Linked DNA regions of Homo sapiens. The protein of the gene in region 2 purifies or fractionates together with the protein of the main gene of each other region. This does not show direct contact. Each region holds a gene or a part of one and is shown on either strand. Other genes may lie near its edges.

Region 1 (8,721 bases), on a different chromosome or scaffold from region 2:
CGCAAGCAGCCGTTCTCTGCTATTCCACCCTGGTGTCCAAGCAACATGGTAGAGGCAGAAGGAAGAGGATCTTACAAAGAGTAGGAGAAAGGGAGAGGGGCAGAGGCTGCTTCTCAGAGCCAACGAAGGACAAAACGAGACAGGTGTGAGCCCAGTGGAGGAGGCACGGGGCAGGGACCAGCCACTGTTGCTGGCACACTGGTGCACGCAGCACCGTGGCAGATGGACCTGAGAGAAAGCAGGAGGGACAGCACAGTGGAGCCAAGAAAGGGCTTAGCATGGCCGGGCACGGTGACTCACACCTGTAATCCCAGCACTTTGGGAGGCCGAGGCGGGCAGATCACCTGAAGTCAGGAGCCTCGAGACCAGCCTGACCAACATGGAGAAACCCCGTCTCTACTAAAAATACAAAATTAGCCGGGCGTGGTGCTGCATCCCTGTAATCCCAGCTACTCAGGAGGCTGAGGCAGGAGAATTGCTTGAACCCAGGAGGCAGAGGTTGCAGTGAGCCGAGATTGCGCCATTGCACTCCAGCCTGGGCAACAAGAGCAAAACCCTTGTCTCAAAAAAAAAAAAAAAAAAAAAAAAAAAAAGCTTAGCAGAGGAGTAACAGCATCAGATCTGGCTTTAGAGCTTCCTACAGTCAACCTCAAGGAAAATGCAGTGAGACAGTCTGGAAGCAGAGAAACCAGTCTGGGAAGTTCTTGTGGTCATCCCAATAAGAAATGAGTGCTTAACCTAGGCAGTGTCCGAGGGGCTGAAGAGAAAGGAGTGGAGGCCAGATGTGGTGGCTCACGCCTGTAATCCGAGCACTTTGGGAGACCAAGGCGGGCAGATCACCTGAGTTCAGGAGTTTCAGACCAGCATGGCCAACATGGTGAAACCTCATCTCTACTGCAAATACAAAAATTAGCTGGACATTGGTGGTGGGAGCCTCTAATTCCAGCTACTCAGGAGGCTGAGGCAGGAGCATCGCTTGAACCCGGGAGGCAGTGAGCCAAGATCATGCCACTGCACTCCAGCTTGGATGACAGAGTGAGACTCAGTCTAAAAAAAAAAGAGAGAAAGGAGTGGAGCTGAGAAAGATGCTCAAGGTAGGGGAGTAAATGATTGGAGGGAGGAGAAGGAAGCACCTAGGATGACTCAGTTTCTGGCTTGACCAAATGGGTGGAAGATGGTGACATCTGTTAGATTTAACTGGGGATGTACTAGGTGTAAAGTCTGAGAGGAAAGATGACAAATGCAGCGACTGTTAGCATCTGTGGTGCGTTCATATGAACCTGAGGAGGTAAGAATGCAAGAGGGAAGTCTACACTGGGTGGTGAGAATCACCAGGTGGGAGGCAGGAGTTAAAGCTAGAGAAAAAACGGAGAGATCAAGAAGAATGTAGGATGAGGCTCCTAGGAGTTCGATGTTTAAGGGATGGCAGGAAGACAAACCTTGGAGATGGATAAACTGCTGGAAAGGTAGGAAGAAAGCCCAGAGAGCAAAGTCACAACTATCCAGCCACTTCTCTTCCCAATACCCCAGACACCTCCCTAGATGAGGACAGCCAGGGCTCTAAGCTCTCACCTGGAAGCCCGACCCTGATAGGAGAAACCTTGTCTCTTGAAATAATCAACTACATCATCGGAGCAGGTCTTGAGAGTGTTCACACGCACAAATCGAGGCAGCTGGGAGGCTACGTAGGACGCAATGAGCAGTGAGTAGGCAGGAGCAAAGTTCCCCGCCTCCCCCACCCCCCAACTCCTTCCAGCTTACCTGGACCAGGCCTGGATCCCACTTCCAACAGGTCCTCATTCCGGCTCACACCCCGATGAACCTTGAGCCGAGCCAACTCAGCCTTGAGCCTCGCCTGGTGCCGGCCCAACAGAGCCTTCCATCGGCCCCCACCCCCTCGAAAGCCCTTTCCCAACAACAACTCATACACTAGCACCTGGGAATGAGGGAACAAAGACAAAAACAAAAATGCCCTAAGCATGAAGCATGAATGCCTTAGAACTAACTCTAATGGAGCCCCGGCAATGGAATGGCTAAACAGATCACCTGACAAGATACAGGTGGGATACCTTATCCAAGATCACACCAGAAATTAACTACAGAACAGGATCGGAACCTGGCGTCTCGCTTCCCAGCCTTAGACCCTTTCTCCACCGATGTTCACCAGTAGACACCTCTGCACCCAACTTCTTGCCAACATTACCCTTTCGTGGGTTTGGGTTTTCTTTTTAGAATGGGGTCTAGCTCTGTCGCCCAGGCTGAAGTGCAGTGGCCAGATCATAGCTCACTGCAGCTTCGACCTCCTGGGCTCAAGTGATCCTCCTCCCTCAGCCTCCCGAGTAGCTGGGACCACAGGTGCGCGCCGCCACGCCCGACTTCCTTACAGTCTCCGCCACTACCACTTTGTACTTCGGTTATTTAATCCTTCAAAACACTCAAAGTTAAAGCATTTTCATCCCATCTTAATTCGTAACCCAGGGAAGGTCGGCTCATACTCATTTCAGATGAGCGACTTGCTCCAGTCCCGCCGTGCACGGCAGCAGAGCTGAGACCAGATGACAAAGCGCTGACCGTCGGGGTTCACTTCCCCGTCCCTCCCCTCCCCTCACCTTGGCCAGGTGCGGCCGCAGCTTCTTCTCCGCACGGAGGAGGCCGGCGCTGGCGATCACAGCATCCAGCACGGCGGAGTAGCGCTGCGTTTCGCACACCAGCGCGTACAGCTGCTTCACGTTCTGTGTGGCCGAGGAAGACAAGCTGGGTGGGGGCTCCCCCGGCCCTCCTCGCCGGGCCCCACCTCCCGACCCCACCCGGGCCCGTCCGACCCCACCCCGGGTTCCTCACTCCCCACCCCTACTACTCGCGCCCAGGTCCGCTACCTGGAAGTTGCTGGAGTACACCAACCCCTTGATAGAGCCCTGGCGGCTCTCCACGCCGGCCAACACGCCTGCAGCTGCAGCATACAGCCCCATGTTCCCGCGCGCCTTTACGGCTCTGTGGCAAAACGCACCCGGCTCGGCGCCCGCCCGGACTTCCGGGGTCAAAAAGCACGACCTTCCGGGACCGGAAGTGCCGGTCGAAGTCGCCCTGCAAGGCGTGTGTGTGATCGCGCACCTGCCGGGGTAGGGAGTGCGACGCTGCAGCCCGTTTCGCCACTTCTTCTCTAGTTCTTAAGTTTTTGCCAATCTGATGGGCAAATAATGGGATTTTACTGCTGTTTAACTGAAGTTACTGAGGTTAAATATCTTCACATGTGTATTAGTCATTATATATATATATATATATATATAATTTTTTTTTGACACAGAGTCTCACTCTGTCGCGCAGTGTCGCAATCGCGGCACACTGCAACCTCCGCCTCCCGGGTTCAAGCAATTCTCCTGCCTCAGCCTCCCGAGTAGCTGGGACTACAGGCCCACGCCACCACACCTGGCTAATTTTTGTATTTTTAGTAGAGATGGGGTTTCACTATGTTTGCCAGGTTGGCCTTGAACTCCTGACCTTAGGTGATCTGCCCACCCTGGCCTCCCAAAGTTCTGGGATTACAGGCATGAGCCCCCGCGCTGGCCATAATTTTGTGTCTCCGTTTATTGTCTTATCTTCCTCTGCCATGTGTCATCCAATGGCTGTGTTCTCAGGGAGGCTTCTGTGTAATGGCAAAAAAGGTCCTAGCAACTCTAGGTCCACAATGTGGTTTACAATACCTGCCATTCACCCTGCACCAGTAACCACATTAGTCCCAGAGCCAAGCAAGAAAGCACGTGGGGTATTTGGGTACCTGAAATGGGCCGGTTTGGCCAAATTAAGTGATGTAGGTATGATCCAGGCCTCAAAGCCACAATAACGGTTTTGTTTTTGTTTTTGATGAGGTCCCACTCCGTCACCCAGGCTGGAGTGCAGTGGCACCGTCATAGCTCACTGCAGCCTCAAACTCCAGGGCTCAAGCGATCCTCCCACTTCACTCTCCAAGTAGCTGGGACTACAGGCATGCACCACCACTCCTAGCTAATTTTATCTTTTGTAGAGATGTGGTCTCACCATGTTGCCCATGGATGGTCTCGAACTCCTGGCCTAAAGTGATCTTCCCACCTCGGCTTCCCAAAGCAGTGATTACAGGCATGAACCACTGTGCCCAGCGAGGATTTTATTCTTTTATCTTGAAAGAAATGGTAGTCCTCTTAAGGTTTTTAAGTCATGGAGTGCTGTGCTAACATATACTTCTTTAAAAGATCAGTCTGGCCAGGTGTGGTGGCTCACACCTGTAATCCTAGCACTTTGGGAGGCCAATGCAGGCAGATCACTTGAGGTCAGGAGTTCAAGACCAGCCTGGCCAACATGACAAAACCCCGTCTCTACTAAAAATACAAAGATTAGCCAGGCATGGTGGTAGACACCTGTAATCTCAGCTACTTGGGAGGCTGAAGCAGGAGAACCATTTGAACCTGGGAGGCTGGGGTTGCAGTAAGCTGAGATTGTGCCACTGCACTCCAGCCAGGGGGATAGAGCAAGATTCTTTCCCCAAAAAATAAATAATCAGTCTGGTTACAGTGTGGGGATATAGGATGGAGGGGGCAGAGTTGAGGCAGGGAGAGACCAATGGGGGTCATGGGAGTCACCTAAACAAGAACTGGTGGCCTGGACTGAGTTGGTGGCAGTGGAGTTAGGTTGAAATTGGCAGTGTGACCGCTAAGTTAAATCCACAGAACTTGCTCAGGAAAAAGGACAGGTCGAGAATAACTCGTAGGTTTTCAGTTTGGGCAGTTCACACAATGCTGCTGTGTCTTTTGGTAGGATGGGGAAACGTGGGGTGATGGAGTGAACAACGGCCACCCAGAGAGAGCAGGTCCTAATTCCTAGAGCCTGGAAATGTCACCTTCTATGGAAGAGATCTGTAGGAATGATCAGGGGAAGGATTTGGAGAGAAGGTTATCCTCGATTATCTGGGCAGGTCCTGCATGGCATCACCAGTATCCCTATAAGAGAGAGGCAGAGGAAGGACAAGCGCAGTGACTCACACCTGTAATCCCAGCACTTTGGGAGGCCGAGGCTGGCAGATCCCTTGAGCCCAGGAGTTCGCAACCAGCCTGGCCAACATGGTGAAACCCCATCTCTACTAAAAATACAAAAATTTGCCAGGTGTGGTGGTGCATGCCTGTAATCCCTGCTACTCAGGAGGCTGAGGCAAAAGAATTGCTTGAACCTGGGAGGCGGAGGTTGCAGTGAGCTGGGATCATACCACTGCACTCCAGCCTGGGCAACAGAGCAAGACTCTGTCTCAAAAAAAAAAAAAAAAAAAAAAAAAAAAAAAAAAAAAATAAGAAGCAGAGGAAGATTAGACCGGCACATACAGAAAAGGCCACGTGAAGACGGAGGCAGAGATTGGAATGATGCGGCCACAGGGCCAGGAAACACCAGGGCATGGCAGCCACCACCTGAAGCTGAAGAGGAAAGGGGCAGGTTTTCCCCGACAGTCTCCAGAGGGAGCGCGGCCTTGCCGTCATCGTGATCTTGGACATCTGGCCTTCAGAACCATGAGAGATTAAATTTGTTTGAAGCCACCAAGTTTGTGGTCATTTGTTACAGTAGCCACAGGACACCACAGCCACAGGATAAATCTCAGGGATGGGGGAGTAGGAAGATCATGAGCGCGGTTTTGGACATGCCCTTGACGTCCAGGCGGAGCTGCTGAATGGCTGGAGCGCTACTGGATGTGGCATGTAAGGGACGGGTCTCCCGGAGAGGGAACTTCTGAGTCATCCCTGTGGAAGTGATGACTGGAGCTATGGGTGTGGAGGGGTAGACAGCCAGAAGAGGAGCCTGGAGGTCCTCAGGCCATGAGTGGCCAGGAGGAGAGGCTGAATCCTTGAAGGAGACTGAGGAGAGGAGGGAGGAAAGTCAGGATTGTGGGGAGGCTGAGGGTTGCTGTTTGCCCCAGCTAGTCTCCCTCAGGCCCTCTTATTGGTCTGTGCACCCAGTTTGACTTCCAGTGGCCAGAGCCAGCATCTTGGTTAGAGGGCTACCCCAGAGCTTCCAGGACCCACTTAGCCTGTGGGTATGGTGAGTCAAAGGGGCATGACAGCCTAGGCACAGTGGCTCACACCTGTAATCCCAGCGCTTTGGCAGGCCAAGGTGGGAGGATTGCTTGAGGCCCAGACCAGCCTGGGTAACATAGCAAGATCCCGTCTCTACTAAAAATTTAAATATTAGCTGGGTATGGTGGCAGACACTTGTTGTCTCAGCTACTCAGGAGGCTGAGGCAGGAGGATCACTTGAGCCTGAGAGGTCAAGGCTGCAGTAAGCTACAATTGTGCCACTGCTCTCCAGCCTGGGTGACAGAGCAAGATCCTGTCTCTGAAACTAGACTCGAGGCTGGGCACGGTGGCTCACGCCTGTAATCCCAGCACTTTGGGAGGCTGAGACAAGTAAATAATTTGAGGTCAGGAGTTCAAGACCAGCCTGGCCAACACAGCGAAACCCCATCTCTACTAAAAATACAAAAATTAGCTGGGTATGGGGCACATGCCTATAATCCCAGCTACTCGGGAGGCTGAGGCAGGAGAATCACTTGAATCCGGGAGGTGTAGGTTTCAGTGAGCCTACATCGTGCCACTGCACTCCAGCCTAGGTGACAGAGAGAGACTCCATCTCAGGAAAAAAAAAAAAAAAAAAAGACTCGAGCATAAAGCAGTATGTATAGCAACTAATATGTGCAAATCATTTAAAGAGAAAGAAATAATGTCAAATTTATTATCCTTGATAGTAGTTGAAAGTTCACAGTAATATGGAAAAGGTATACATGGGACTATTTCTGCCCTCGGAAGCGTCTGCGCAGATAGCATGGTTAGCAAGTGGCAGGAACCATGGGGATTTCAGTGTGTCCCTGGCTGCCAAGGCCTGGGGGCCGAAGTTTACAAATACACCCTTGGCTGAGGGGAAAGGGACTGGGGTCCTGTTCCCTATCATTACATGTTCCAGGGACACACAGGCCTGAAGACCTTCCTAAACAGTGACGATATCACCTCAGGCGGGACCCAGCAGAAGCCCGCGAGTCCCCGGTGCCCCGCCGGGATGGGCCTGTGGGCCGGCAGGACTCCGGGCGGCCCTACAGCTTGGTGGGCTGCTCGGGGCTGAGGGGGCCAGGCCCGCTGGGCGGGGGCAGCACCATGGGCAGCGAGTTGCTGCCCCTCTCGTGCCAGCAGGTGTCCAGGATGGGGTAGAGCTTGCCCTGGAAGTCGGCCTGGAAGGTGTAGAGCGGCCGCAGGTCATCGGGGCGGTCGGCATCGAAGAAGGTGAGTTCGCCCTGCTCATAGTGCAGGTAGAGCCCGATGCGGTGGGGGTGGCCGGCCACGGGCAGGGGTACCCGGGGGCAGGCAAAGGCTTCGTACACCCGGCCCTCCTTCAGGCCGATCAGCCACACGCCGTGCTCGGGGGACCTGTTCAGCTTGCCCTTACGGCTGGCTGTGCCCTTGATGACCCCCAGGCGCCAGTCGCTCTTGCTGCCCACCACCACCTCCCAGTAGTGGCGGCCGCAGGAGAAGCCGCGGCTGGCCAGGACGCAGGTGCTGTAGTCGAAGCGCTCAGGCTGGCTGGCTCGCCGCTGGGCCAGAAGCCCGCACTGCACCACCGTGTTGCCCTTGGAGAGCTCCAGGAGTGGGTGGGCAGTGGCAGGGTCCAACTTGAGAGGCTCCGGGGCTGGGAGGGAGATCACAGAGGGTCTGTGAGGCCACGTGGAGGGCAGCAGACCCGGCCCACAGAAGCTGATGGAGGCCCTGAACTCCCCAAGGAGAGGGGCTGTGTCTTCCTCATCTCTCTAGCCCCAGGGTCTAGAAGGGGCCAGTACAGGGCTGCTCCCTGAATGAATGAATGAATGAATGAATGAATGAATGAATGAAGTTTTACATAAGGAAGATCAATCACAGACTGATTGCATCCACCCAAGGCAAAAACAGTGTTTATATAAAAGGGAGCAGCTTGGTGGGCTGTGGGGGGCTGAGGTGGCTGGAGAAAGAAATGGACACTGGGCTCGGGGTTCTGGCCTGCCTGCCTGACACAGAGGTGTTGTGGGAAGGACCCGGAAGACACCTGTCCTGTGAGCCTATAGCTCAGCCCTCAGGGATTTCTGGAGAACCCATAACAACTGCAGCTGTTGGATTTGCTAGCCTAGTCAGCCTATTCAAGGACGAACTAGCCCACCTGAGCTTTTTGCTAGTTACCAGCTGATCCGTTTACCCCAGAAATGTGAGATGTGCTCCCCCCTGCCCGCCTCCCACCCCTTCCCGCCACCCAAGTTGCCGCAAGGAAAGAAGGCCAAGGGGAAGAAGGTGGCTCCGGCCCCTGCTGGCGTGAAGAAGCAGGAGGCCAAGAAAGTGGTTTATCCCGTTTGAGAAAAGGCCTAAGACTTTTGGCACTGGACAGGACTTCCAGGCCAAAACGGACCTCGCCCACTTTGTGCAATGGTCCTGCTCGGTCAGGGTGCAGTGGCGGACAGCCATCCTCTATAAGTAGCAGAAACTGTCTCCTGCTATTAACCAGTTCACCCAGGCCCTGGACCGCCAAACAGCTATTCAGCTGCTTAAGCTGGCCCAGAAGTACAGACCAGGGGCAAAGCAAGAGAAGAAGCAGAGACTGTTGGCCCTGACTGAGAAGAAAGCTGCCAGCAAAGGGGATGTCCCCACTAAGAGGCCACCTGTCCTTGGAGCAGGAATTAACACCGTCACCACCTTG
Region 2 (7,927 bases):
TTTTCTTTTACATTCCTGTAGTGAAGTTTCATCTTTATCCTAAGACAAGTGTTGTTTCTTGTAAGGAATATATATGTAGATATTGTGGTTCATTATGAAAATGATAGCCTTCAGTAGTTCAAACTCATAAATAAAATCAAAAGGAAAATCACAAATAATATAACAATTATTGCAAAAATGTATGACAAAGAAAATAAAGTATGGTGCCCAGGCTGGTCTCAAACTTTTGGTCTCAAGTGTCCCAAAATGTTGGGATTACAGACATGAGCCACTGTGCCCAGCAAGAATTCTTTAAAAACCAGTAAAATAATACTTAAGAGCAAAAAGAGGTAACTAAAAATTCACAGGACAAAATACAAATGGTCAACAAATATGCTGAAATGTTAACTTCATTAATAGTCAAAAGAAATGAAAATAATAAAATATTACCTTTTGGCTCACACACTGGCAACAAATTTTTTAAAGCCTGCTAAAAATCAGTATAATCACCCTGGAAAGTAATTTGGCAATATAAAACTTTAAAAGCTTATGCCTACTGGTCAGTTATTAGGCTGCTAGGACTCTTAAGAAAAATAATCAATAATGATGACAAAGATATATGTGTAAACATATTCAGTGAAGCCACTGATAATAGCCAAAAAGGAGAAACAAATGCAATATCGAGTAATTATTCATACAATGGAATAATTCTGAATCCAATGATTTTTTTTTTTTGAAGAATATGAACAACAAACAAATGTTCAGGAAATATGTGAAAAAGAACAGAATATAAAACTTTATATAATATTCCAATTGTGTATGTACATAGAAAAGAAGCCAAAATATAAAACAAATTAACAATTGGTGCTTCTAATTGAATTATATATTATTTCATCGCCTACAACATAAATCACTCCCCTTTATTTGTCCTTAAAAGCATCTCTCTTCATACTTTAGAAGGAACTTCCTAGTTCTAGCACTTCAAAAAGAACATTATAAATTATTTTCCATCAAAACTTTGATATAGTTAAACCTATAAGATAACCATCAATTATAATTTCTATTTATTTCCCGTTCAGATAAGCACTTCATAAATGTTTGCTGACAGATTACAAAAATTGTGCGCAAGGACTCACTCACCTCGACTTGATCCCTTTAAAAATCTCTAATACATAAGCTGAAGGCTATAAAGGAAGGATTAATACCATTAGTGATACTCTTGGTTGGTTTCTACTAAAGTTCTCTAATTTCTATCTCCTATAAAACAGGAACCCCTCCTTCTTACTTCAGAAAAAGTATTCTAAAATGGCAAGATCTGCATGAGTTTAGAGTCAGTCAGATCTGGGTTGACAACTGAACTCTGCCCCTTACCAACTATGCTACAAGTCAAGCCAGATTCCTTATCTATAAGGTGAAGATACCCTGACTCACAAAATTACTGTGATGAGACATGCAATAAAATACTAATTAGAGATTACTAGATAAACATACATTCTCCCATCACTCTTCCCCTCTCTCTCTTCTTTATCTCATCAGACTGATTTCTGTCAACTTTCCTTCTGAAGGCTGATTCAAAAGTTAATTTAGATTAACAGAATCTTCAGAGGGCTTTGGACACTGAACATAAACAGGCACTAGAAAACAGAAGAATGCCAGTCCAGTCCAACCAAAAAGGCTGGCTTGGGAAGTCACACTAAAGTGGTCCTTTTGAAATACAAAATATCCTAGAGAATGCCAAGATTCAAAAGAGACTTTTGAAGACAAAGTATTCCCAATAATCCATCCCCAAATCATAATGCCTCTACTTCCTTTCTTGTCCTTGTAAGTAACCTTTTAATAAACAAAGGAAAACCGTTAGACATTTTACTCACTGAGATACTGCCATAAGCCATTAGGATGGGGTTGCTGGGAAGTGGAACCTATGAAGAAATTATTAAATCAAGTCATTAAAAAAACTGAGACTTAGGTAGCACTTGTTATAGACAGAGTGGTAACTGTATTTTATAATTTTGAAAAGGGAAAAAAGAGACCCTAAAAAACTGACAGAGTGTAAAAGAATTATCAAACCTGTTAGTTTCTATAGTACTCATGAATGAGCTTGGACAATGTATTTTATCTAGAAATCTGAAATGGTTACCCTGCCTCCCAAACCAACATAGAACGTGGGTTTCTACTCAAGACAATAATCACCTCAATCTGTAATTTCCTTTCCTTCGCTTTCATTAAGACCAAGTTCCCTTCTTCCCACACTTCCTCAATTTCTTCTAATATAGTGAGTTGGAAAGATTCTATTCCATTTATTGCATATCCTGATCTTAGTTAATAAATCCCAAAACAATGGTTTTTCTCCTTGGGAATTCCCTTTATTGATACTGTAACTTACTGTACTCTCTTATTACCTCTTTCCCTGCAGCTTTACAAATGGCTTTGTGTTCCTTCATTTTTGCAGTTTCTTCTCGGTACAACTCAATAGCCTCCATAATCCTCTCAGCCTACAGAGGATGAGAAAGGAAAGAAGTCATCACAACATACTCCATCATCCCAGGACACTGAAACTGGAAGAACTGACCAGAAATTTGCCAAATGAAATAGCTTCAATCTGTTTAATAAAGACGTGCGAATAGAGTGCCAAAAAGCATTTAAAGACATTTTTGGTTTTCTTATTTTTTAATGTACAGGGAAGAGACTGAGTGTCATGGACTCAGGTGGGATGATATCTAGACACTCTGAATAGGGCAGGTCCCAGGAACACCTGAAAGGAGCACATATTGATCAAAGAGATTCAGGACTACTCCCATCTTTGGTTACAAGAGAAGGAAACAGGTTATAATCCCCATCTTTAAATCTCATCAACTTTTTGCCAAAAAAATGGCTTTCTGGTTGATACAGAATAAAACTTTTACTAAAAAGTTGAGATCTTATTAAAAAACGAGATACCACATTCTATATCAACTTACTGCTTTCACTGTTTCAATAGTTTTCTTTCCAGTAAAGTAACTGTCACCTTGAGTCTCTCCTGGAACCTGCCAGAAACAAAGAAATCCTTGAATAACACTGTTGACTGTTGAGTTAAAGAGCTGATAAATTAATCTTACATCCATATGAGAACAGCTATTATTATTTTATGAAAATACTAACAGTGTTATCAGCTACCAGTAACAGAACTTAGCATATGTATTATTGTAAGAACATCCTGCAAATGTTTAAAAAGAGAATATCCAAATTTTCTAATTTTTATTTTTGTGCTACAGTGAATAAAATAATTCCCTAAAGTCTCAATTGACAGAATAATTATTCAGTAGCAAATTTGGTCAATCACTTGAACCACAAAATTAGGATATACAGTTGAAGAGAAAGAATTACACAGATTCTTTATCAGCTGGTGATACCTGCAACTTCTAGCCTCAATTTTAATTCTATTAGAAATTCTGGACATTATAGTCAATTTCAATAAGATAACTATATATGGGGCATAATCTCAAGGTCCCCAAAATTTACTTACTGCTGGTTGGTCTTCTTTGGCCACACTCTCCTCATATTCTGCTTCTCTTTCCTGCCATGAGATAGATATACATTAATTTGAGAGAAAAAAACATGGTCTCTATATGAAGAGAAATGAGGAAGCGAGAAGCTGCTCCTTTGACAACATAATACCCTAATGGCATCTTTATCTCTGCCTAGCTTCTGAAATGGGTGACAATGGTCTTGAAAAGATCTCCTGAAGGTTCTTGGACTTGGCAATGCATCAGGTGTAACTGCACTAGACAGAAAACTTCAACTAGGACAGCCTGTCAGATACCTACTGGCATATTTGTAACCAAGCCTAAAGTTCTTACCATCTCCCTTTCTTCCTCAAGAATAAGAGGCTCCCTTGTTCTCTCCCAAAGTCTCAGAGATTTGTCATGGGACGATGATACAACATAGTCTCCACTGGGGCTTACAGCCAAACACCATATTTCCTGGTGATGACCCTGGAGGAGAAAAAAAAAATAAAGAATACCTCATTCATTGACCACTACTTAGTGGGTAATGTAAATATTCTTAAAAGTATTTCTTAAGTACCAAGCAAGCACAGAAGGCATGTGGTTACCTCCAGAGTCTGTATGTGTTCAAATTTGTCTGCATCCCACTGTTTAATCTTATGATCTTTTCCGGCAGTGAAGAAGAGGTGAGACTTGGGTACAAACTGTAGGTACATCACACTGAAAAGTGACAGAAATATTAAAATGTCATCAAATTCCAGGTTAGTAAAAAGAGTTTTACACACATAAATAGCTTTTGACTAGCTAGTTCTAGGGTGTCTGACTATATTTTAGAACTTGTATCACTGCCTGAGAACACTGAAAAATAGACACAGATGCTCAAGGAAAGTGATAACTTACAGGTGACTCAAAGGGAGACATTTGAAAAGACTATACATACCTGTCATCATGTGCAAAGAGAGACTTGTGGCAGTCCCCAAAGTCCAAACCCCAGATTTTCACATTCCTATCAGCGGAGCCAGTTGCTATGAGTGCTCCATCCTATGAGAAATAAAAGTAAAACACTACCTTGATTTTTGAATTCCGTATATGAATAAAAAGCTAACCAGAATATTTAACCCATTTCTTTCAAACACATTAAAATGAAGCCAAAAAACTGATTTTCATCTCTACTAAAAACACTGAATTCTTTGCTCTTACCTACAGAGGAACTTAAAAAGCTTGTTAAGTAAAAGCACGAACTCTGTGGCTTAAATACTTTCGTACTGTCACAGGGCAGTGCTGTGCCTTGACATAGGGTTATCTATTTACTTCGTTAGATAGGAAAAAGATTTTCTAATCTCTGGCATGGGATTTGGAAAGAAAGTGGGAGAAAGAAACAGAAGAGAAGCTGAGAAAGACTCTACTAGAATGTTTATGTAGCCCACATTCCCTATCAGTATTTCTCTTATCTCTCCTATTTCAATGCGTGGTCCAAATGGTTGTCAACATAAAAAAAAAAAAAAAAAGAAATACATTTAACATTGTAACTTAACTTTGTTAGTGCACTGACCACAGACAGCTATGAGGTCAACTCCTTTCACACAGAATAGACTTTTTTTTTTTTTTTGAGACGGAGTCTCACTCTGCAGAATAGACATTGTTTTTAATATACATTGCCACTCCTAATCAAAACTAGGTATTGGGAAATAAATGATTTTGGTCAAGAGACCAAAAGTCTACATAGTGTAAAATACCGTAACTATCCAAATATAAATCCGAGCTCCTCAGCAGCATTATCCTTCAGAATAAAAAGGAATGCCTTTTTAAAGTCTTTCATATTTTAGTGTACTCTACCAATTATAGTATTTTAAACAATAAAGTACTATTTGGGAGAGCTACAAGAGGGAAAGAGATAATATTTATAAGGATTGATTGAGATGATATTTGCAAAATTATTCTGAAAACATTAAAGTAATATATATAAGATACAATATATATTAATTTGAGACTGTTTTTGGAGAAAGATATATAACAGAATGATGATAAAAACAAATAATCTAAGATGAAGACATCAAGCCAGAATTAAGAAAGTATCTGCTGTAAAAAAGACAACATATTACTGAGACACTATTTAAACTACTTACATGAGAGATGTCCATGCATATAACAGGCAGTTTGTGTCCATACAGTGACAGAAAAAACTAAACATCAAAAAAACATAATTAATGTCTGTCTATAAAATATGGGTATAATTTATTACATGTAGGTCTAAAATATAACTTTAAACACATTTTTAAATTGCTTTATATCTGTATTTTCAAAGACAACCCACAAAAGACAGCTTGGCAGGAGTACCTGTGTCCACTACACAGACCCTCCATGTGCTTGCCAAGAATACTGCAGTATAGTGGAGGCAAGGAAGCCCCCAGAAGCTTACTGCCTCAGTCAGATCTCTGTATCTCCTCACTGAAAAGATTCCAGGGCATTTGTTTCACAAAAAAATTTCCCAGGCCCAACCTGGTCCTATCAACTCTCTGGGTATAGGGCTCAGTAATCTATATTTTTAAAAGCAACCTAGATGATCCTAATATATAGCCAAGTGTGAAATCACTGCCCAGGACACCTAGCAATGCTCTTATAACTACTTAGTATGACAGAATTTTCTGTCCACAAGATTTTTTGAACATATGAAATATAACTTGCTTTAAACAAAATTCATGAACCATAGAATTATTTTAAAATGCTAGCTTCCCTAGCATAGTTACATTGCTTTGATTCACACACACATTTTTAGAAATGTACTATCGCTGGGCACAGTCAAGGCCACTTCTTTATAGCCTCAACCCAAATTCTTAAGGTCAGTCAGTCAGAAAGGGAAAATATCCGCAGGCATAACCACTGTACCTTTAAAGTATCAACGTAGAAAATTTTCACAGTACAGTCCAGCAAAGACACAGCCAATAGCTTTTGATTGGGAGAGTAACTGACACACAGAACATCTTCATCTAGTTGCAAAGTTCGGGTTTGCTTCACAGAAAGTCTAGCACCACAAAAAACATCAAGAAAAAATAAATGAGTATACAAATTCAGACAAATCCTAACTCTTTAGAGCACAACAAATGATATAAGACGTCAAAAGGCCATTCCATAGCTCCCCATTTTCACTCCAAAAAATGGACACAAAAAATGTCTACTCACCTCTTTTGGGTACTATTTTCATCTTTCACTAACTCAAAATCCCAGAATTTGACAGATTTATCTGCACCACCTGTCACAAAGCCACGCTGAAAATCAAATGAAATTTCAATTAAAAACTATTTTAGCATAAAAACTTTGCTATGAAGATACATTTTAAAAGTCTAAGAAAGTATTTTTATTTAACGTCATGGGATAAAAATTAAGAAAAACGTGGTTCTCCCTAGCCCCTTTCACTGATCTTTTGGGTCTGCTGCCACAAACCTTATGTGAAAATTCCTACCATCGACTAACATAGGCAGAAATAATAACTAATGAAAAGTTCTAGTTATACTATTATCTAGCATCAAGAAGAAACAAAAACTCTCAGTAAACCAGTTTGAAAAATATACATAGAATGGATAATCTAGATTTGTTTAAAGTATTCACCTCAGAAGGATATAAATTTAGTCCTGCAATGTCCCTACTTAAAATAGTTTTGAAGCTGTTTTCCGTTATCAAGAAAATTAGTCTCATTACATGGCAGTGTTAGTGTAAAGTACATAGAACACTGGATCTCAAGTGTCTGTCCCTCATAGATTTATAACACAGGAAACAACCTTTCCGTAAATCCCTAGTTTTGTTGAAAAAAAGACCACACAGTTTATGGAAAAGATAGAACACTCTACAAATGCAAGATTTATTACTATTTTAGACTCACAGCTGTTTCGTTTGGACCCCAAGTGGTATTAAACACTCTAAACTTCAGTGATTTTTTCCAAAACTAAGTTCTACTTTCAACGGATGAAAATTGTCTATCATTGAGAATATTTAAATAAATGGGCCAAAATTTCTTAAGGTGTTGTCAAAAAAAAAAATCTCAAGATTTTCTAAGCAACAGCACCATTATTAGAATAAGCATACTTTTGCCAGGAACTGCTCTGAAGGTGAGCACATATTTATTGACTTGTAAGGGCTGACATACTTGCTAAAACTACTTAGCTTATACAGTCATAGATGTTTGTTTGAGGAAAAAAGGGGAGCAGCAAAGTCTATTCAGTTCTCTGCATCATGTTGCCCAAGAGAATATTCCCCCTTAAGAAGTATTACAAAACATTGGCAAAAAAATCATGATGGTAAGCAATTTGATGTCACGCTGCTGATAAGCAAAAGTAGCCAAACAAGATTTCATTTCATAATGACAGGTGGTCATTTATAAGAAGGCATCATATACAAACACTAAAGATTAGACCAAAAAAAAAAAAAAACCTCAGGCTTTCTTTAAAGAAACCCTGAGAGAAATCAGGGTA
Region 3 (7,927 bases), on a different chromosome or scaffold from region 2:
ACCCCATTATCAATAAAAAAGAAGAAGAAAAGGCAAGAAAACCACCAACGAGGTCAAGTATACATGCTGGATTTTTAAAAATAATTCAATCTTTTTTCAAAACAAAAACCTCTGCACCCAGCCATTTAAACACATAAAGATCTATGGGGCCAGGAAAGGTGGATCATACCAGTAATAACAGCATTTTAGGAGGCTGAGGCAGGAGGATCACTTGAGCCCAGGAGCTCAAGACTAGCCTGGACAACAAAGTGAGACCTCATCTCTACTAGACATTTAAAAAATTAGCCAGGCATGGGCTGGGCGCAGTGGCTCACGCCCGTAATCCCAGCACTTTGGGAGGCCAAGGTGGGTGGATCATGAGGTCAAGAGATCGAGACCATCCTGGCCAACACGGTGAAACCCCGTCTCTACTAAAAATACAAAAATTGGCTAGGCGTGGTGGCACGCGCCTGTAGTCCCAGCTACTCAGGAGGCTGAGGCAGGAGAATCGCTTGAACCTGGGAGGCGGAGGTTGCAGTGAGCCGAGATCGCACCACTGCACTCCAGCCTGGTGACAGAGCGAGGCTCCATCTCCAATAAAATAAAATAAAATAAAATAAAATAAGCTAGGCATGATGGCATGTGTCTATAGTCCCTGCCACTCTGGAGGCCAAGGCAGGAGGATTGCTTGAGCCAAAGAGTTCGAGGTTGCAGTGAGCTATGATCATGCCACTGCACGCCAACGTGAGTGATAGAGCAAGACCCTGTCAAGGAATGGGACAGGGATGGGGACAGGGACAGGGAATGGAAGGGGAAGGGGAAAGGACTGCTTGAGGTCAGGAGTTTGAGAACAGCCTGAGCAACATAGCAAGACCCCGCATCTCTCAAAAAAAAAAAAAAAAAAAAAAAACACCTTAGCTAGCCATGGTGGTGCACACCTGTGGACCTAGCTACTTAGAAAGCTGATGTGGGAAGGTCATTTGAGCCCAGAAATTTGAGGCTGCAGTGAGCTATTATCATGCCACTGCTCCCCAGTCTGGGCGACAGAATGGGACCATGTCTCTTCCAAAAAAAAAAAAAAAAAAAAAAAAAAAAAGCCAGGCATGTTGGTTCATGCCTGTAATCCCAGTATTTTGCGAGGCCGAGGTGGATGAATTGCTTGAGTCTACGAGTTCAAGGCCAGCCTGGGAAATAGCAAAACTCCAACTCTACAAAAAATACTAAAATGGTGGTGGTGCATGCCTGTGGGGCCCCAGCTGGGGTGGAAAGATGGCTTGGGTACGGAAGGTGAAGGCTGCAGTGAGCCGAGATTACACGCCACCCCAGCCTGGGTGACAGAGTGAGACCCTGTCTTCAAAAACAAACAAATGACGTTTTTAGTTTTGGAAAATTTGAAAACATCTTAAGTGCTTATCAACAAGGAATTATTTAAATCAGCAGTTCTCAAAATGTGGTCTGCAGACAGGCAGGAGGCCCTAAGATCCATTTTCATAATAATGCTAAGAAGGCACTTTGCTTTTCAGTATTCACATTTGCACTAACGGTGCAAAAGCAACAGTAGTTAAATCTGCTGGTGCCTTAGCAAGAACCAAGACAGTGACACAAAACTATACGAGTAGTCACTGTACATTTATTACTACCAACTCTCACAGTACTAATAATGTGAGTTTCATATAAGAATGCCTTTGGGCCAGGCATGGTGGCTCACACCTGTAATTCTAGCACTTTGGGAGGCTGAGGTGGGTGGATCACCTGAGGTCAGGAGTTCAAGACCAGCTTGGCCATCATGGTGAAACCCTGTCTCTACTAAAAATACAAAAATTAGATGGGCATGGTGGCAGGTGCCTGCAATCCCAGCTACTTGGGAGGCAGACGCATGAGAATGAACCCAGGAGGCGGAGGTTGCAGTGAGCCAAGATCGCACCATTGCACTCCAGCCTAGGCAACAAAGTGAAACTCCGTCTTGAGAACAAAAAAAAAGGAATGACTTTGATGAGGCAATAAACATTACCAGTTTCATTAAATTTCATTCTATTTCCATATTTTTCATAATCTGCACAAAAACCACTTCCACTACTGTAAAACAAAATACAATATTTAGGCAATTGTCTGAACTTAAGATTGTTGCTTAAAATTTAAGCTTTCAGTAGAAAAATCAGAATTTTAGAAAGATTTCATCTGCCACTGTAAGCCTGACAACTTCCTAAAAATCAAAGACGCTTAATGAGTTTAGAGGTAATATTAATGAATTATTATTGTTTGATACTATATAAGAAAATGTGTCAACATTGGAAGATCTGCATAACTCACTGAACCATTATTTTCCAAATAAGCAGTGTATGATGTTAAAAATCTTACACAGGTAAGAGATCCATTCCAGATGCAAGACACTGACAGACCAATGGATTTTAATGTAACAAAGTAGAAAAAAATTCTTGGATATGGTTTCAGATTCCACATTGCAACTAGCCTCTAAGAAACCTAGTATCTCTTTGAGCATGTGTCCTACGAAAAAGGGGGGGGAAAAAAGAAACCTAGTAGTGTATCAAAGGAGCATATCAACAATTATTTTTAAAGGCTTTTAAAAACTATTCTCCCTTTTCCAACCAAATACCTGTGTGAGGCTGTATTGTCTTCTTATACTTCCAATGAAACATCTTAACTCCATAGACTGAAGGCAGAAACAGCTATGAAAATCCAGTTGACTTCTAAGACGGCAAAAATGCGGCCAGGTGCGGTGGCTCATGCCTGTAATCCCAGCACTTTGCGAGGCCGAGGTGGGTGGATCATGAGGTCAGGAGTTCAAGATCAGCCTGGCCAACATGGTGAAACCCCGTCTCTATTAGAAACTACAAAAATTAGCCGGGCATGGTGGCACACACCTGTGGTTCCGGCTACTAGGGAGGCTGAGGCAGAAGAATCGCTTGAACCCGGGAGGTGGAGGTCCAGCCTGGGCGACAGGGCGAGACTCCGAAAAAAAAAAAAACAGATGGCAAAAATGCTGTTCTTCCCATTATATATTTTTTATTTCAAATAATTATTTTCATTACAAAATGTCACTTAGGTTAACATGTGATAGATTTTCTAAACGAATAATTTTACATTTCTCAAGTTTTTCAGGTGAAATTATACATTTTTAAATGTGAAAAATAAAATAACATCTTAGCATTATTTACTGTAAAAATATAGTAAATAACAATAGATAAAAATCCACATAAAGCTCTGTAGAGTCACCAATAATTTTTAAGAGTGTAAAGGAATTGTGAGACCAAATACTTGAGTACTGCTGATTTAAATAAAATATCATACATCCACGCAAGTGACTACTATGCAACTATTAAAAAGTTTAAAAAAAAAAGCTTAACTGTGTGGTAAAGTTTTCCTAAAATTGATATGAAACCCAGAAACCACTGAGGAAAAGCAGTATTTGCCTACATGAAAATTAAAGACCTCTAAAAAAAAAAAAACCATACAATTCCACAGACAATGTTAGAAGACAAATGATATGGATAACCTGTTTCTTTCTGACTTAATACTCCTCCAACTTCCCTGCCTTGGGTGAGTTAGCACTCTAATATAAAATGCTTGGAAATAAACTTGAAAAGATATTCCATAACTTGTTAGCTTGAAAGTAGGGGAAAAAAAAGATAATCCAAAAGAAAAAAAATAGAAGAACTGAATAATCTGTCCTCAGATAAAAACCACAAATCATCAATATGAAAATATTTTGAAACTTCAATTTTAAAATGCAAATTGAAAATACTGAAATTGTTTTCCCAAATCAGACTGGGACCAATCTGATTGGCAACAACTTAAAAGACTAATCACATGAGTTAGCAAGGATATAGAAACCAGGAACTCTCAAACTGTTAAGTCTAAGCCAATAAAACAGAATAATGTGGCAGTATCTGCGCAAAGGTTGTTAAAGGGTAATCTTTGTTCTAGGAGATCTGAAATTTTACCCTATATATTCACACAAGTGCACAATTATGTAAGGATGTAAATTACAGCACTGTGTGTAAAAAGAAAAATCTATACAGCCATTAATGTAAACCTAATAAAATATATGGTGGTATATCAATATAATGCAAGACGGTGGTTTAAAACAATGAGGTAAAATATGCACATACAAACAGAAAAGTCAACTGTATAGACGTATGTATTAAAAAGTATACATATGTGCATTTAATACTTCTGGAATACAAACCAAATTTAACATTGACTACTCTGGGGAGTGAAGAAAGTAAAATGCAAGAAGTAAATAATGAGAAAACTGCCAAAATTGGAGCCATAAAACATAGTATTTTTCCAAATGATACTTGCTATTTTACACAAAAAGTAGAATTTATAGAGAAACTGAAGTCCCCAGAGACTTCATTTTAAGATTTAAACTTTTTTTTTTTTTTTAAACTGATGAGGACACTTAAGAATCCCTTCTTAGACTCCATTCAAGCTGTGAGGGATATATGCCTTGTTTACTTCTCCCCACAATAAAAGTGACACCAAGAACTAGGTTCACAGACAGCTAGAAGATATACAGTTTGTTTCATATCACTGAAAAAAATGAAAAAAAAATGTGGGTTTTGGTGCTACTATTAGGTTAAACTATATAAGACTGCCTCTAACGAATTGTTCAACCTAATACATGTGGTACATTGCTTCCCTGAGGAAGGATTTTATCCTTTATAGACTGTTTGACCTCTGATGTCCCACTAGCTGAGAATCTCCATTGTCTAAAAAACTGATTTGTTCCTCACTGGAGGATATACTGAACCAAAGGGTCTCCTATGAGAAAACTGCATACAGCATATTTGAACTATTTATTTCAGTAGGTCTTCCATGATGAATAAAGGAAACATTTAAAAAAATTGAGATCATAAAAAAATTTTAATAAATGAAACAATTATAAATAGACTTGTGGACTCTTTTAAGTAGAGAGTGAATGGTCTGCCCTAAAAAAAGTAAATAAAAACAAAAAAAGACAAGAAATGAACTGAAATACTTCAAGAACCTCAGAAGTTAATTCCAATTTACTTTCCTCTAGATTGTTACAATGTTTCTGAACTGCCATTTTCTTCCCACCATCAGCATTCAGTGAACTCAAGTTAATTCTCATATACCCCAGAAAATAAATAAAAACAAACCTACTGGAAAGGAGTGGGAAGAGTTGGGAAAAGCCATATAATGAACTAATACTCAATTTCCTGTTACACTATTAACTATGAAAACTTAACTAATTTTAATCTGTCCCCTTTTCTAGTCTCTCACTTACAAACCAACCAACCTTCAAACTCCACATTCCCTGGCTCTCGTTTCTCATTCTCAGTCCAACTTCAAGTCACCTGTTCTTACTCTATACATCTGTATATCTCCTATTCACTCTTCAAACTGCCCTAATCTCTTTTTCCATGTTTTATGGAACTACTCTATGGAACCTTACTAAAAAACTTTTTCCCAAGTCAGCACGGACTTTTTTAAAAGTGTTCAATCCAATGGATATTTTGACATCTTGCTTCATTTGACCTTTTTAGCACATGTGCTGTAAACCACCCTATCTTAGAATAAACCACCTTCTTGGTTTCCATGACCACCACTGTCTCTTTTTTTTTTTTTTGAGATGGAGTTTCGCTCTTGTTGCCCAGGCTGGCAGGCAATGGCGCGATCTCAGTTCACTGCAACCTGCACCTCCTGGGTTCAAGCAATTATCTCACCTCAGCCTCCCGAGCAGCTGGGATTACAGGCGTCTGCCACCATACCCAGCTAATTTTTGTATTTTTTAGTAGAGACGGGGTTTCACCATGTTGGCCAGGTTGGTCTCAAACTCCTGACCTCAGGTGATCCGCCCGCCTCCGCCTCCGCCTCCGCCTCCTGAAGTGCTGGGTTTACAGGCGTGAGCCACCGCGTTGGGCGACCACCACTGTCTTTGTATGTCCATCCTTCATAGGCATTCTTCTTCAACAAAAGCCTCCTATATGATGCTAGTATCCCCGGTCTTTGTCCTGAGTCAAGTTCACTTCTCCTTAAGGGAACTTATTTACTAATGTGGCTTCCATTATGACCAATACTTTTCAAACTAATCTCTCACATAGCTCCTTTTGAACTCAAGACTCACACATAAAACTGTCTGCTGGTCATGGGTCATCCAAGTGAAAATAGAACCCTCAACCTTAGCATATCTAAAACTAGTCTCATAATCTAACTTTCCCTTCAAACTTGCCCCATTCACAATTTACCTTGTGGCCTAACTCAGAAAACCTAGGTGTTAGAAAGCTTACCTGTTCTGTAGGGGATGTTTAATATAGTGTTCTGGGTTAGCAACCTCCTGATTAGATTCCGTTTTCTCCTCTTCTGTAGTCGGGGGATTAGGAGTAGGGGTGGTTTCCTAGTGGAAAATAATATAAAACATTATTTTAAATGTCTTAACACATCTATGACAGCAATATTCTAACTAAACCTGAACTGATATGCTGATAATTTTTTTTTTTTGAGACAGAGTCTCTCTCTGTTGCCCAGGCTGGAGTGCAGTCGTGCGATCTTGGCTCACTGCAACCTCCTCCTCCTCCCAGGTTCAAGCAGTTCTCCTGCCTCAGCCTCCTAAGTAGCTGGGATTACAGATGTGTGCCACCATGCCTGGCTAATTTTTGTATTTTTAGTAGAGACGGGGTTTCACCCCGTTGGTCAGGCTGGTCTTGAACTCCTGACCTTGTGATTCACCTGCCTTGGCCTCCCAAAGTGCTGGGATTACAGGCGTGAGCCACCACACCCGGCACTAGTAGTATTTTTTAAGAAGAAGGAATTAAAGCAGATTGCTTCATAAAACAGACCACAGACCAAACTCTAAAGAACCATTCTCTATTCTCATATCTCTTCATTAAGAGCAAAGAGCAAACGGTTTCTCAAATTTGAAAATATAACAGTATTTATAGTTATCCTTCCACTTGCACTTTTTTTTTTAAATAGCAGGAAGACTGTCACAGACTATGCAACAAAGTTGGGAAAATCTTCTATCTTTCTTAACATACCATCATATTAAGATACTGCATATGGTACTGAAGGGGGTATCAGGAAGGATACAGGATGGAAACTAAAGTTTCAAGAGTATAACAACTGTATCACTGGGCACTGTGGTGCGTCTCTACAATCCCAGCTACTCGGGAGATTAATAGGAGGATTAATAGGAGGATTGCTTGAGCCCAGGAGTTTGAGACCAGCCTGGGCAACACGGCAAGACCCTGTCTCAAAAACAAACAAAACAAAACAAAACAACATTATGATGACAAAAAAGCTTTGTAAAGTGATCAAGCCAATGATGCGCAGGTCTTACCTTCATGGCATACTGTTTACCCTATCGTAACCTAAAAGTTCGGCAACTTAATATTTTCAATGGAACCTAACAAGATGGACATTGGCTTGAACTTAAATCTTCTTTTAGGCTAGACAAAATTAACACTGTCATCTAAAAATATCAGAAAGAAAAGTAGTCTGGGGGCAGTAATTTAAAATAGGTGTTCACCACATTCTTCCATGTAGCTCTTCATACTATCATAAATTGTTGTCAACAAAAGAAGAGAGCCAAAGAAAGGCACTAGGACAAAGACTGATACCAAAAAAAGGGCAATGCAACAAGTGTTTGGATATCAGACTGAAGCAGCAAACAACAGAGATCTATGTTAACATAACAAGATATGTAAGTCAAATATTTATTGTCTAAAAGAATGCAGAGCAGAAAGGTGGTAAATATTTATTTGAAAGAATATGGGTTTTTTTTTTTTTTGTATTTTATTTTTCTTAGAGATGGGGTCTCACTCATAGCTCACTGCAGCCTCAATCTCCCTGGCTCAAGCAATCTTCTTGCCTCAGCTTCCACGGTAACTGGGACTACAGATAGGCACCATGATACCTGGCTAATTCTTTTTTATTTTTAGTAGAGACAAGGTCTCACCATGTT
Region 4 (7,927 bases), on a different chromosome or scaffold from region 2:
TACAAGTCTTTGCAATTATCCCAAAGCAAAACTTGAGAATCTTTATATCCTACAGTTTCTCAACCTTGGCACTACTGACATTTGGATGGAATAATTCTTTGTTGTGGGGGACCATCTGTGCATAGCAGAATATTTAGTATAATAATAGCATCCTTGGCATCTAACTGCTAGACACCAATAATACCCTTCCTCTTTCAACCAAAATGTCACTGCCAAATGTGGGGGAATGGTGAGGTTGGTGGAGGCCCATGGAAAATATATCCCCCCTACAACCACTGAGACCCACTACTGAAACAAAACAAAACAGTTCTATCTTAAATTATGAGAAGCACAGGGTATACTGATCCAAGCCCCTAAGGGTGCCTTTTAAAAAGAGAAAGGCAGAATAAACAGTGAAACTTTAGAGGAAAAGCTAGAAATACATATCCATAATAAATGAAGAATTCTAAGTGTAAATATAGAGAAATATATACAGACACACATGAACATCCATTGTGAAAACTTCAAGTGTCCAAGTTGCTGTGCTGAAATTTTGCTTAATAAACTACTACCCAAAATGAGTCAATGGCCTCAATGTTACATTGATTATTATCAAAGACTCTTTTTTTTCTTTTTTTTTTTTTAGACGGAGTCTCACTTTGTCGCCCAGGCTGGAGTGCAGTGGCATGATCTCGGCTCACTACAAGCTCCACCTCCCAGGTTCACACCATTCTCCTGCCTCAGTCTCCTGAGTAGCTGGGACTACAGGCGCCCACCACCACGCCTGGCTAATTTTTTGTATTTTTTAGTAGAGACGGGTTTTCACCGTATTAGCCAGGATGGTCTCGATCTCCTGACCTTGTGATCCGCCCGCCTCGGCCTCCCAGAGTGCTGGGATTACAGGCGTGAGCCACCGTGCCCGGCCTCAAAGACTCTTTTTTAAAATATAATTTGCTATCAAAGGAGGCATTAGATTAAATTACACCATACATACCTTCAAATTTGGCATTCACCATAACATACAAATGCTCTCCTAGACAGTCACTTCGGTCCCTGGATAATGCATGTAAACTAATGGTGGGGTATTCCAGTGAGAATCCTAATCCAGAGCCATCTAACCAAGACAGGCGGCTGAAAAACATGTTTTAAGTAGATTATTTTTAGAAAGTAAATCCTCATGTAAGACCACAAAGTATATAAAAGTTCAGCTTGGACACCTTTATGCATATAAATAAATTCAAGTTTACTTTTTTAGAAACGTTCATAAAATAAGAAAATTCAGTAGTGGAAACTGAGTTTTCTTTAAGATCAATTCTGTTACGGTCTCTTTCCCTCTAGCTATAAATTCAAACAGACTTGAAATTCCATTTTCCTCAGTCACATGTATGTTTCTATGACTTTCATGCTTACTCTTTTTTGGTATGTCTTCAAATACCCTCTTTGCTTTTGCAAATCCTCCCCTCTTCCATGAGGCCTCCCTTCAACTACACCAGTCCATAAAGATCTCTTCCTTTTCTGATTTGCAAATTTTAGCACTTAACTCTGTGGTAATGAGTCTTATATGTGCCCTTATGGAATGTGAACTATCGGACAGCAGAACTTGTCACATTCCTTTATTAACATCCTTCAAAACCGTTAACAAAGAGCTCAGGAGTTAAGTATGCAATAAATCCTTGGTAATCATGCATTTCTCCATGAATCCTACACTAAAAGACATATATATGAAATGGCTGTAATCACACTCACCGCAAGTCAGGAAATAATTATTACCCTGAGAGACAGATTCCCTGAAGCCTTTCATTTATTCAACGTCTTTAAGAGAAAGCCACAGAAAAGCTAGATCTAGTTTTCCCTCAAATGTGGTCAAATGCAAATATTTTATTGGTGTAACAAAGGAAACACATCACCAAAATCAGTATTTTGAGCTTTCAGTAGAGGCTAGCTAATTTTCTGATAATACTTCATCCATCTGGAGCTGTACCACTTAGCAGAAAAAAAGTAAAAAATCCTGAAGAAGTCAAAAAAAAAATGTTAATGCAATATAGTGGTTGCCTAGGGCTAGAAGGAAATAGGGAATGTCTGCTACTGGGTACCAGGTTCTTTTTGGGGTGAAGAAAATATTCTAAAATGGTGGTGATAATTGCACAATTCTGTAAACAGACTAAAAACTAGTGAATTGTATGTTTAAATGGTTAAACTGTATGCTATATGAATTATTTTTAAAAGTTAATGAAGTAAGACCCCTGTATCATTCTATATTCTATACAATTTTAACAAGCCTGGCTGTCTAATTTCTAACCAAGCAAAAACAAAAGTAAAACAGGAGAACCTAGGACTGCCTTGGGCAGGAACAATGACAGTGTGACAGTCTGAGATCACTCATGTTCAGTGGAAGGGGAGGATGAACTTTCCACCTCAGTTCCCCTAAATGAAATCAATGTCTAACCACATGACCCTCAGTTACCGAAAGCATTACCAAAAACAAAGGCAGATTATTAGATTGTGGTGATAACTGTACAACTCTGTAAATATACTAAAACTTACGTAATTGTATACTTTTTTTTTTTTTTTTAGACAGAGTCTCGGTCTGTCGCCCAGGCTGGAGTGCAGTGGCGGATCTCGGCTCGCTGCAAGCTCCGCCTCTCGGGTTCACGCCATTCTCTTGCCTCAGCCTCCCCAGTAGCTGGGACTACAGGCGCCCGCCACCACACCCGGCTAATTTTTTGTATTTTTAGAGACGGGGTTTCACCGTGTTAGCCAGGATGGTCTGGATCTCCTGACCTCGTGATCCACCCGCCTCGGCCTCCCAAAGTGCTGGGATTATAGGCATGAGCCACCACACCCTGCCCCTAATTGTATACTTTCAAAAGGCAAAAGTAAGAATATATGCACTGTCATGTGGAAAGATTTCTATCCAACATTCTTATTAAAAAAAAAAAAGTAAAGGAAAACTAGGAAGCTTATAAGTGATAAATCTTTGTTTTTTTGAGATGAAGTCTCACTCTGTCACCCAGGCTGGAGTGCAGTAGCATGATCTTGGCTCACTGCAATCTCCACCTCCAGGGTTCAGGCGATTCTCCTGCCTCAGCCTCCCAAGTAGCTGGGATTACAAGCGTGTGACACCACGCCTCGCTAATTTTTGTATTTTTAATAGAGATGGGGTTTTGCCATGACGGCCAGGCTGGTCTCAAACTCCCGACCTCAGGTGATCTGCCACCTCGGCCTCCCAAAGTGCCAGTATTACAGGCGTGAGCCACTGCGCCTGGCCTAAAAGTGATAAATCTTAAAGAGCTAAAAGTGATAAAACCTCTACAAATTGTTTTCCAGAACAACTCATTCCTACTGGTTCCAAAGAAACATTGTATTATGTAATGAGGTTATGTGCTGTATGCATCTTTCCTGCCCACTGCTTTCCTTTTAATGTGGAGAGGAAATAATGCCCAAGTATCACGAGTCCCCTACAAAAGCTGTATTATTTTAAAGCAAATAAACTGCCCTTTTCTGATCTCAAAAATTTTCTGGCGTTATCACAATTCAGAAAGAAACATTCCAAATTTGGGTGTCCAAAATAATTTCAAATATCCAGAGCCATAAAACTTGAATGACTCAATGACGACATGGAAAAACTGAAACCTAAACATAGAATGAGTGCCTATCAAATTATGGCCTTCACTTTTAAAAGCCATCATAATACCTCTGTAATTCCTTACTAGTGCAGAGAGAATACAAATGCTCCTCTGCACAGCATTTGCTATGGAACTCTCATAATCTTTTACATGAACTGGGATTATGCATTCTATAGGACAGAAGCCAAGTTCCACACTTAAAAACACTTATTCTAATCGTTAAATTCTTTTTTTTTTAAATAAAAAAAGAAAAGAAACCCTAGGTTTCTGTATTTTACTTTTTCAGATTTACAAATGCAAATCATATATTAATATTCACAGATATTTTTAAATGGGAAAACAACTTACTTTCAACAACTTATTTTTTCCAACAGCATGTTACTATGTTAAAAAAGATTTGACATTATAAGCCGAGCGTGGTGGCTCAGGCCTATAATTTTGGGAGCATTTTGGGAGGCCGAGGTGGATGGATCACCTGAGGTCAGGAGTTCCAGACCAGACTACCAACATGGCGAAACCCTGTCTCTATTAAAAATACGAAAATTAGCTGGGTGTGGTGGCAGGCACCTGTAATCCCAGCTACTTGGGAGGCTGAGGCAGGAGAATTGGTTGAATCCAGGAGGCGGAGGTTGCAGTGAACCAAGATCACGCTACCACACTCAAGCCTGGGCAACGGGGAGACTCCATCTCAAAAAAAAAAAAAAAAAAAAAGAGATTTGACAGTACATTCATTTAATCTGGCAATTTTAATTTGAACAAATACCTATTAACAACAAATTAAATCCTATTGCACATGAATTATTTGTTGCACCACCACCAGATTTTCTAATTCTAGCAGAGGCCACGATGAAATAGGCCAGACATGCTGCCATTAAAGTTTGCTGGGATGATTGTAATAAATCTACTGAAAGTATTCAAGTTCTAACTTTCAAAGTGATGTAGAGAAACATAAAAGATTTCACTGTATCATCTAAAAATATAACTGTTTTGTCTGATCATTAAATTCTGATTTGCATTTACTCTTTGTATATATTCTAGAAGAAATCCTTCTAAAACATTTAATTAATCATACCCAGTTCCAAAGAAACCGTGAGTCAAAAGGGAAAGACAAGAAGAATTAGACACAGAGTAAACATGTAGAGAACATGTTTTGCTGAATTCAAATGCTTTTGCACAAGTATGGTGAGTGTCCTTTATTCCCAGCACGGGATGAAAAACAGGACAGGAAGCTAAGAGAGGTCTTGAATTTGGGTTAACTTAATTATTTGGTTTAAGATTAATTTTGGAATGAGATACAAAAAAAAAATTTTAAGTTTAAATTACCTAATTTTAATTTGATTACCTATTTTACCTGTTTTAAACTGTCTATTTTATATTATTCATGCCTCTGTATCTTCCTTATTTGGATAAAAATTCAACTTCCTGGCCGGGTGCAGTGGCTAACACCTATAATCCCAGCATCTTGGGAGGCCGAGGCAGATGGATCATCTAAGTTCGGGAGTTTGAGACAAGTCTGACCAACATGGAGAAATCCCATCTCTGCTAAAAATACAAAATTAGCCAGGCATGGTGGTGCATGCCTGTTAATCCCAGCTACTCGGGAGGGTGAGGCAAAAGAATAGCTTGAACTCAGGAGGCGGAGGTTGCGGTGAGCCAAGATTGCGCCATTGCATTCCAGCCTGGGCAACAAGAGTGAAACTTCATCTCAAAAAAAAAAAAAAATTCAACTTCCTATAAAAAACTAAGCTCTGAAATAAGCCGGAGATTCTAAATCTTTCAACACAAATCTGAGAGACTAAACCAAGTCCAGCCAAACCTAATCTGTTGCTGTCCCTCTCTGCCTCAAACTAAATAGTTTCACCAAAGCCTAAAGGCTATAAGCCAAATTTATGAACATGACTCTCTCCTTCTCCAGCTTTATCATCTCTGGGCATTCTCCCTCACTCCCTCAGATGAAGAACGGCTGGACTGTATATATATGTACACAGTATGTGTGTGTATTTATACCCTTTTTTTGTATTTATGTTTCACACACAAAAAAATTATTTTGGCCGGGCACGGTGGCTCATGCCTGTAATCCCAGCACTTTGGGAGGCCAAGGTGGGTGGATCATGAGGTCAGGAATTTGAGACCAGCCTGGCCAACATGGTGAAACCCCGTCTCTACTAAAAATACAAAAATTAGCTGGGCGTGGTGGAGCACGTCTGTAGTCCCAGCTACTCAGGAGGCTGAGGCAGGAGAATCGCTTAAACCCGGGAGGCGGAGCTTGCAGTGAGCCAAGGTCGCGCCACTGCACTCCAGCCTGGGCGACAGAACAAGACTCTGTCTCAAAAAAAAAAAAAAAAAAAAAATCTTAAAGAAGAAACATAAGAGATTTGTTTGTGAAAAGCTGAAACAAATAATGTTTAATTTTTTTCAGAGACAAGGTTTCACTCTGTCACCCAGGCTGGAATGCAGTAGTGTGATCACAGCTCACCGCAGCCTCAACTGCCCAGGCTCAAGTAATCCTCCCACCTCAGCTCCCCATAGTAACTGCCACTACAGGCACGTGCAACCACGACCGGCTAATTTTTGCAGTTTTTGTATTCTTTGCAGAGATGGGGTTTTGTCATGTTGTCCAGGCTGGTCAAGAACTCCTGGACTCAAGGGATCTGCTCACCTTGGCCTTCCGAAGTGCTGCGATTACAGGCGTAAGCCACCTTGCCCAGGCTAAGAATTTTTTAAAAGCTGATAAGAACTTAAAAAGAGTTATACTTCCTTAGTATGAGAATTGTATTGTGGTTATACAAGATAATGTCCCTGTTCTTCTGAACAGGAAGTGGAAAACGTCGACAATTCTCAAATGGCTCAGAAAAAAAAGAAAAACAGAGACATAAACATGGCAAAATGTTAACTAATAAATCTTTGTGAAGGGTGTATGGGTAGTAATAACACAACTTTTCTTTAGGTTTGAAATTTTTCTTTTTTTTTTTTTTTTGAGACAGTCTCACTCTGTCACCCAGGCTGGAATGCAATGGCATGATCTCGGCTTACTACAACCTCCGCCTCTCGGGTTCAAGCGATTCTCCTGCCTCAGCCTCCCAAGTAGCTGGGATTACAGGTGCACGCCACCACACCCGGATAATTTTTGTATTTTAGTAGAGACAGGGTTTCACATTGTTGGCCAGGCTGGTCTTGAACTCCTGTCATCAGGTGATCCACCCGCCTCAGCCTCCCAAAGTGCTGGTATTACAGGCGTGAGCCACCACACTGGATCTTAGGTTTGAAATTCTTCTAAATGCAAAAATCAATACAGGACTGTCCCTCAAAAGGAGTTATAATACTGAAAGAAGCGTCAACATACAGAAATGTCATGAATAAAAAAGGAATGCCTGGGAACTAGGAATGTATCTGTGCTCCATCTTCCACCACTTCAAAGAAACTGCTTTCCCCAATTATCAAAGATCTCCTTGTCAATACTCAATATATGCTCTTCACATTTTGTTTTGACTGCTCCTTCCTCCTTTCTCAAGTTTCTTCTTTCATGACCCACCCGTCGGCGTATCCCTAGGGTTCTACACTTGGTCCTCTTCTCTTCTGAGATATCTAATCCATTTCCATGAGTATACACTAACACTTTAACGACCTCCAAACATCTCTCTTTAATACCACTTTCCCAAGATACACATTCTTTTTTTATTTTTATTTTTTTTTTGAGACAGGGTCTCACTCTGTCATGCAGGCTGGAGTGCAGGGGCACAATCACGGCTCACCGCAGCCTCGACCTCCTGGGCTCAGGTGATCCTCCCACCTCAGTTTCCTGAGTAGCTAGGACTACAGGCCGCCACCATGCCTGGCTAATTTTTGTATTTTTTGTAGAGACTGGGTTTCGCCATGCTGCCCAGGCTGATCTCAAACTCCTGGGCTCAAGCGATCTGCCTGCCTCAGCCTCCCAAAGTGCTGGGATTACAGGTGTGAGCCACCGCGCCCGGCCCAACACGGTCATATGTACAACTACTCCACACATGTCCTGACCAAACTCATTATCTGCCTCTCACCTCAATCTTGCTTTTCCTCCCATCCATATGTCCTATCTCAGTTTCTGGCCTGAAGCCTAAACCTTGTTCAATGTCTAAATTTCCCTTTAAAGCAGAGGTTCTTTACAGTTTTTGTGCTCTGGATTCTGTAGTAGGCAGAATTTTGGCCCCACGACCTTCACTTTCTGGTGTCATGCGGGTGAATATGTTATATTACACAGCAAAAGGGACTTCACAAACGTAATTAAGGTTACCAGTCGACAGTAACATAGGGAGATTATCCTGGATTTTACAGGTGGTTCCAAA

What was found.
Region 1: the proteins of WDR3 (region 2) and NSUN5 fractionate together in Homo sapiens (co-fractionation; one large-scale study listed by BioGRID). This does not show direct contact.
Region 3: the proteins of WDR3 (region 2) and EIF4E purify together in Homo sapiens (affinity purification with mass spectrometry; one large-scale study listed by BioGRID and IntAct). This does not show direct contact.
Region 4: the proteins of WDR3 (region 2) and CLNS1A purify together in Homo sapiens (affinity purification with mass spectrometry; one large-scale study listed by BioGRID and IntAct). This does not show direct contact.

Annotation. Positions count from the first base shown.
Region 1 is NC_000007.14:73,305,822-73,314,542, forward strand, and holds the start of NSUN5 (28S rRNA (cytosine-C(5))-methyltransferase), read right to left. Parts: upstream 3,006-8,721; 5' UTR 2,970-3,005; coding exon 2,877-2,969; intron 2,733-2,876; coding exon 2,610-2,732; intron 1,937-2,609; coding exon 1,762-1,936; intron 1,682-1,761; coding exon 1,573-1,681; intron 1-1,572. Other genes in the region: E3 ubiquitin-protein ligase TRIM50, read right to left, coding at 7,100-7,689. UniProt on the Homo sapiens protein: S-adenosyl-L-methionine-dependent methyltransferase that specifically methylates the C(5) position of cytosine 3782 (m5C3782) in 28S rRNA. m5C3782 promotes protein translation without affecting ribosome biogenesis and fidelity.
Region 2 is NC_000001.11:117,948,551-117,956,477, reverse strand, and holds part of WDR3 (WD repeat-containing protein 3), read right to left. Parts: intron 6,728-7,927; coding exon 6,642-6,727; intron 6,484-6,641; coding exon 6,348-6,483; intron 5,645-6,347; coding exon 5,588-5,644; intron 4,503-5,587; coding exon 4,402-4,502; intron 4,182-4,401; coding exon 4,070-4,181; intron 3,951-4,069; coding exon 3,816-3,950; intron 3,533-3,815; coding exon 3,482-3,532; intron 3,003-3,481; coding exon 2,937-3,002; intron 2,889-2,936; exon of another isoform or gene 2,472-2,888; coding exon 2,379-2,471; intron 1,899-2,378; coding exon 1,851-1,898; intron 1,391-1,850; exon of another isoform or gene 1,248-1,390; intron 1,164-1,247; coding exon 1,120-1,163; intron 1-1,119. UniProt on the Homo sapiens protein: Part of the small subunit (SSU) processome, first precursor of the small eukaryotic ribosomal subunit.
Region 3 is NC_000004.12:98,895,622-98,903,548, forward strand, and holds part of EIF4E (eukaryotic translation initiation factor 4E), read right to left. Parts: intron 6,362-7,927; coding exon 6,255-6,361; intron 1-6,254. UniProt on the Homo sapiens protein: Acts in the cytoplasm to initiate and regulate protein synthesis and is required in the nucleus for export of a subset of mRNAs from the nucleus to the cytoplasm which promotes processes such as RNA capping, processing and splicing.
Region 4 is NC_000011.10:77,628,790-77,636,716, forward strand, and holds part of CLNS1A (methylosome subunit pICln), read right to left. Parts: intron 1,111-7,927; coding exon 974-1,110; intron 1-973. UniProt on the Homo sapiens protein: Involved in both the assembly of spliceosomal snRNPs and the methylation of Sm proteins.